Linked DNA regions of Homo sapiens. The protein of the gene in region 2 purifies or fractionates together with the protein of the main gene of each other region. This does not show direct contact. Each region holds a gene or a part of one and is shown on either strand. Other genes may lie near its edges.

The links.
Region 1: the proteins of FAM24B (region 2) and GALE purify together in Homo sapiens (affinity purification with mass spectrometry; one large-scale study listed by BioGRID and IntAct). This does not show direct contact.

The regions. Positions count from the first base shown.
Region 1 is NC_000001.11:23,795,099-23,797,754, reverse strand, and holds the end of GALE (UDP-glucose 4-epimerase), read left to right. Parts: coding exon 1-60; intron 61-607; coding exon 608-721; intron 722-812; coding exon 813-879; intron 880-972; coding exon 973-1,058; intron 1,059-1,168; coding exon 1,169-1,246; intron 1,247-1,489; coding exon 1,490-1,604; intron 1,605-1,747; coding exon 1,748-1,806; 3' UTR 1,807-2,156; downstream 2,157-2,656. UniProt on the Homo sapiens protein: Catalyzes two distinct but analogous reactions: the reversible epimerization of UDP-glucose to UDP-galactose and the reversible epimerization of UDP-N-acetylglucosamine to UDP-N-acetylgalactosamine.
Region 2 is NC_000010.11:122,877,346-122,881,291, forward strand, and holds the start of FAM24B (protein FAM24B precursor), read right to left. Parts: upstream 2,237-3,946; 5' UTR 2,140-2,236; intron 1-2,139.

The DNA of each region.
Region 1 (2,656 bases), on a different chromosome or scaffold from region 2:
TACGGCAAGTCCAAGTTCTTCATCGAGGAAATGATCCGGGACCTGTGCCAGGCAGACAAGGTGAGGGCCCCCTTGACAGTGCCCTGGCTCCACTGATCGATGGACTCCTCAGGGCCCACCCTGAGCCCAGGGGTGGGATTCCGAACACCCCCACTAAGGAGGAAGCTAAGGCTCAGGCAGTTGCAGTGGAGGGCCCCATCCCCTGCTTGTTTCTAAAGATAATAAATAGACAACTGGCCGGGCGCAGTGGCTCATACCTGTAATCTCAGCACTTTGGGAGGCCCAGGTGGGCAGATCACCTGAGGTCAGGAGTTCAAGACCAGCCTGGACAACATGGTAAAACCCCCATCTCTACTAAAAATACAAACATTAGCCGGCCATGGTGGTGTGTGCCTGTGGTCCCAGCTATTCGGGAGGCTGAGGCACAAGAATTGCTTGAACCTGGAAGGCAGAGGTTGAAGTGAGCCAAATCAGGCCACTACACTCCAGCCTGGGCCATAGTGAGACTCCATCTCAAAAAAACAGAATAGGCATGAGGAGGGCTCTGGGTTCAGCTGGGACACGCTGCCTGTGCCTCTGGCCTCACCACCTGACCCACATCCCACAGACTTGGAACGCAGTGCTGCTGCGCTATTTCAACCCCACAGGTGCCCATGCCTCTGGCTGCATTGGTGAGGATCCCCAGGGCATACCCAACAACCTCATGCCTTATGTCTCCCAGGTAAGGCAAAAGGGAAGGGACAGAGGAGTGGCCCTGGGGTTAAAGCTGGTGCCTGGGATCTGGGACGAACTGACCTGATCTCCACCTCCAGGTGGCGATCGGGCGACGGGAGGCCCTGAATGTCTTTGGCAATGACTATGACACAGAGGATGGCACAGGTGAGCCTAGGACCAGGGGGACCTAGGAGTGGGAGCCAGGAAGGAGAGTCAGGGGGAACAGACTCCCCATCCAACACACTCCCTTCTCTGCAGGTGTCCGGGATTACATCCATGTCGTGGATCTGGCCAAGGGCCACATTGCAGCCTTAAGGAAGCTGAAAGAACAGTGTGGCTGCCGGGTAGGAAGAGAAGGGAGAAGTGAGGGAGGGGAGGGACCAGATCCAGGCAGAGCGGCCCAGAGGCGTGGTCAGTCCAGCCCGCTCCATAAACCCTGTTCTCCGTGGGCCAGATCTACAACCTGGGCACGGGCACAGGCTATTCAGTGCTGCAGATGGTCCAGGCTATGGAGAAGGCCTCTGGGAAGAAGGTAGGCCCCCCCGCCCCACCCACCTCACCCACCTCACCCCACCCAGCTCTCAGCAACAGAGCAGCTTTGGCCCTTCCCACTCACCTCTCTGGAGGGTACCTGGCACTGCCCAGTCTCCTCAGCCTGCCTAGCACCCGGTGCCTGCGGGCCAGCCGCTGCTCTGCACTTCTGCTTCTTAAAGACCTGGCCAGCAGCTGGGCCAGGGCCGGCTCAGCTAAGCTCCAACTACCTCCTGTCTTGCAGATCCCGTACAAGGTGGTGGCACGGCGGGAAGGTGATGTGGCAGCCTGTTACGCCAACCCCAGCCTGGCCCAAGAGGAGCTGGGGTGGACAGCAGCCTTAGGGCTGGACAGGATGTGTGAGTGCTGGCCTGACCCCTGCAGTTAGGGGCCAGGGAGGGGCTAAATCAGATCTGGGCATGCCCACCCAGGGCGGGCTGTGGGGTGGGGGAGGCTCTGCATTCCACCGTGGGCCCTGAGCACACACCTCGCCGTGTTGCAGGTGAGGATCTCTGGCGCTGGCAGAAGCAGAATCCTTCAGGCTTTGGCACGCAAGCCTGAGGACCCTCCCCTACCAAGGACCAGGAAAAGCAGCAGCTGCCTGCTCTCCAGCCTCTGGCAGGAACTCAGGGCCCTGGAGCTGCTGGGGCCAAGCCAAGGCCTCCCCTACCTCAAACCCCAGCTGGGCCCGCTTAGCCCACCAGGCATGAGGCCAAGGGCTCCACTGACCAGGAGGCCGAGGTCTCTAACTCTTATCTTCCACAGGGTCCAAGAGTTCATCAGGACCCCCAAGAGTGAGTGAGGGGGCAAGGCTCTGGCACAAAACCTCCTCCTCCCAGGCACTCATTTATATTGCTCTGAAAGAGCTTTCCAAAGTATTTAAAAATAAAAACAAGTTTTCTTACACTGGGGCAGGTTCTCACAGATGGTCACTATCCACCCCTGGAATAGAATCAGCCAGGCCTGAGCGTTGAGGAAGCAATTTCTTTAATTTTATCGGAATCCAGGACACAACAAGAAAAACACCCAAAAACCACATGGAGACAGAAGACGAGACACAACTCCTCCCCCACTGCCTCCCTGCTCTAGAGTGGGGACAAAGTGGGGGTGAGACAGCTGGGGGGAGACCTGAACCTCAGTCCAGCCCTACAGGCTCCAGGCCTGCAGGGAAGGAGGGTAACGGGGAGGCAGGGCCCAGCCCCCCAGTGTGGGGAAACAGCTGAGGGAAGGCCCCCCTCAAAAGGCTCCACCTCCTCACCAGCACTCCTGCCCAGGGACAGGGAGCCCACAGCAGCAAGGGGACCCCGGGGCCATGGCCACATTCATGACTGAGAAGCAGCTGAGTGGAGGCAGGAGACACGATTATCTGGGCAGAATCAGTTGGGGCAGGGGCCTGGGGGGGCCCCATGGG
Region 2 (3,946 bases):
GGAAGTGGTGGAGGTCGCTAGGCTTGCTGCTGATTAGTTGGGGCAGAGATGAAATCACAAGGGGTGAAGCTGTCCTCTTGCACATTGAGTCACTTCTGGGTGGGGCTGTAGGAATGGTGGGTGTCAGACATGCAAAAAAACCCTGAAAAGATATCTCAAAAGGCCAGTCTACAATAGTGGTGTTATCTGCAGGAATAATTGGGGAAGTTGCATATCTTATAACCTTCTGAATAATAACTGATAATAGTTCATGTCTGCACCTTAGCAGGACCCAGGCTCCTCTCCTCCTGCCAGCCTGATGCAAAAGCAGTTGAGTTTGGGGGAAGGCCTATGATAATTTAAACTATAGCCTAAATGTCCCAAAAGCCCAAGAATAATCAAGGCAAGACTGGGGATGGATTAGCTCAGATCTCTTTCACTGTCATAATTTTCTCACTAACTTTTGCAAAGTTTTTTCAGCTTTGAAAATAAGATTGAATTTGCCAGTTTCACCTCTTTCTACTCCTGTTATACTGTGATAGAGTTCCCAAACAACCCCTATTGCTATCTCTATCAATTCCATACAACAAACCTATACTCAATCTCTACTAGGCACAAAACAATTCCTATTTTCAACAACTGTACAGATGGTTGGGAAAACAAATGTGAGAATTATTTGGTAAAGCTCCATACCAGAAGAGAATTATAGTATCTAAAAACTCTAAGTGTAGCAGAGAGAAATTACTGACAAATTCTCTCACAGTGTGGAGGGCTGTGCTTGGCACTAAATGATGAACAGGATTTTTCCTATCCAAAAGAAGGGGCATTCTAGGTAGAGGGAAAAGCATGTACAAAAGCTGGGGGGTCTAGGAGGCAGGCAGAAGTCAAGGATAAAGGGCTTTGTATGCCTGTTAAGAAGTAATGGTGGCCAGGTGCGGTGGCTCACGCTTGTAATCCCAGCACTTTTGGGAGCCGAGGCGGGCGGATCACTTGAAGCCAGGAGTTTGAGACCAGCCTGGCCAACATGGCAAAACCCTGTCTCTCCTAAAAATACAAAAATTAGCTGGGCCTGGTGGTGCACGCCTGTAGTCCCAGCTACTCAGAAGGCTGAGGCAGGAGAATCGCTTGAACCCAAGAGGCGGAAGTTGCAGGAGCCGAGATCACACCACTGTACTCCAGCCTGGGTGACAGACTGAAACTCCATCTCAAAAGAAAAAAAAAAGTAATGGTGATGGTGATTCAGTCAGAAAGCATCAAGCATCAGGACAATTGATAAAAGATTAGAGGGCAGTGCAGAAAATGAAACGCAGGTGAGGAGATAATGACTATCAACCAGTAAAGAAACTCCTGGAATTGTTCCGATGAAAGCTAGTATTTCAAAACAGAGAGGCAGAGATGGAGAAAGACAGGGAAGTTTTTCTTTAAAAACCAAAAATAAAACAAGACTGGGTGATAATACTGAACATACGAGATTGAAAGAAAGGGGAGACGACAAAATGCTGTAGGCTTTCTGCCTTATTTAAGGAAGTCAAAATCCAGCTTATAGTATTGATCTTGCTCATGAAGTTTCAGATAGGTAATTCTAAAAAGCCTATTTTCCTTTAGACTGTCCAATTATGATGACATGTATCAAAGTTAACTTATGACTACAATGGGCTGGGCATAAAGAACAGGAAGTCTGGTGTACACAACTTAGAATGCATCTGGAGTACAAAAGGAAGAAAGAGGCAAGATCTACTTCCTATTCCATGGGGCATCTGGAAAACTCCCTCAGGCGACCGCTCCATCCAAACACCTGGGATCTTTCTCAACCTTCTGATTTCTGTCACGAGGGCATCCAGCATAGTCCTGGCAACGCCGTAGGATCAGGGAGCATCAAATGAGATGGCACCTGGGGAAGGCCCGTGTGGCCCAGCGTCCACCACTAACGCCGTTCAATATCTACCTCAACTCCCCTCTAACGCGAGAATGTGTATGAGAGAGGCAGGGAGAGTTCGGAGTAAAATTAACCCGAATGGACAGCGCTTCCGCCGCGTTCGCTGCCACAAATGCTGCAGACCCGACGGAGTGGAGGCAGAAAAGGCCCTGGCGTCCACTCGGGAAAGAACGAGGTCAGGAGTCGGTCCTGCACATCGCGTAGAGCGAAGAGACGACACCTACCTGACCATAGACGCTCCCCATCCGCCCAGCAACCGTGGTCCATGCTGCCTGCGTCCACCGCCAGCGTCGAAAAACCGCCGTGGTGCCCGCGCACAGTGCACCGCGCCTGCGCATGGTCTCCAAAGGCTGAGCGAGGGCCTGCCAGTGCGCATGCTCCGCTCTTTAGCGCTTCCTGAGCAAAGTTTGAACGCCTCTCGAGTCCAGTTGGCTTATGCGCATGCGTTTCTCTGGTGCAGGTTCTCACCAAATCCAGAAGCGGCGGGCATTTGAAATGATGTAAGCCGGGAGTCGCTCTGCCTGCCCGTTTCTGCGCTGCACTGGCCGACACTTAAGCACTGGAAGAGAGGCCTGGCAGGAGGCGGCGCAGTGGACACGCGGTCCGAGGACGGGGGCCTCACCCGCCGCCCCACGCTTGCCTCTTCCTGGGATGCCGCAGGCGGGGCCCTAACTCACAGCCTCCTCACCCGGGCTCGTGTCTGCGCCCGCGACTTCGACTGGGAGGAGCTTCTGGCGCCACCTGCGCCACGGTGCGCCGGGCCGCCGGCGACCGGGTCGCTGCGCTCGGCGACTGCCGCGCTCCTCGGGGAACGTGAGGGTCTGAGTCCGGGATCCAGGAGAGCAGTTGGTGTCGGGTCTCTGCGGGGGAGCGGGGCTGCGAGGTGGAGGCGAGGACCGGGGTGGGCGGAGGCGGGGTAGGTCTGGCCGGGAAGTACCCGAGGCCCCGAGGCATGAGCGGGGGAAGGTGACCAGGACTTGGAATTTCATAAACGTCCCCGTCAGGCGTGACGGGTCGTCAGGGCTGCTATCAAAGTCAGTCCGCCCATCTACCCTCAAACAAGCCACCTCCTCTCCACCAAAACAGGCTGTGTAAAAAGTCCAGCTATAGACGACCGCCGTCGACTTAATTTCGAAAAAGATACACTTTGTCTTCTATTGTGTTCTGCTCCTACTCCTGTGCACACAGTAGGTGTCCAGTAATGTATCCGAGAATCAATTGCAGGGGACTGAGTAGAACGTTGATGATTGAGGAAAAAATAGAGGGGGAAGCCCTGATGTGTGATGCCTCCATTTCCTTATGAATTCTGTGTTGAGCATTTGTTAGAATAAACCTCATGGCCTAACAAGTGGGTTTTGAGCCATGTTCAGAAACTATACTGTGTGATGTTTTCACCTGTTTTCTTCTCAGCCAGAATCTGGTGATTTAGAAGAGAAGATTGAACAACCAAGATGAAAACCCCTGCTTCCTTTACCTGAGGTGTGGCCCTGATGGAGGTGAAGAAATCGCTTCTATTGGCATTTTAAGTTCAGCAAGAAATATGGAAGTGTACTTAGGAGAGGAGTACTGTGGAACCAGTAGGGGCAAGAATGTTTGTACTGTCTTGGATGACAGTTGTGTGACTTGTACACGGGAAAGTGTTCTCCTGAATTGGTGTCTTTATTCTGTTCACCTTTTGCAATATTGATTGACTCTCTGACATTGATGTTTACATTAGAGAAGAGAAGATAAAAACCTACTATGGCATAGAAGGTTAGACCATTAAAGCATCTTCTAGGCAATCTAGTTCAGCTTCCTCATTTTTAGGAATGCAGAAATTTAGAGCTAATAAAGGAGAGGTGAGCCTGGAGAGGGTCATACTAGTTAAAGTGTCCAGGCAAGAGTGCAGTCCTTATTGCTGCTTCTTGACTCTCTCCATAAACTCACAATGGTCTGTTTTCCAGAAATTAATTTGACAGTCAGTCTGAAACTTTGATCACATATTTTTTAAGGAACCTACAAGCCCAAGGTGGTGCCACACCAGCCTATTTA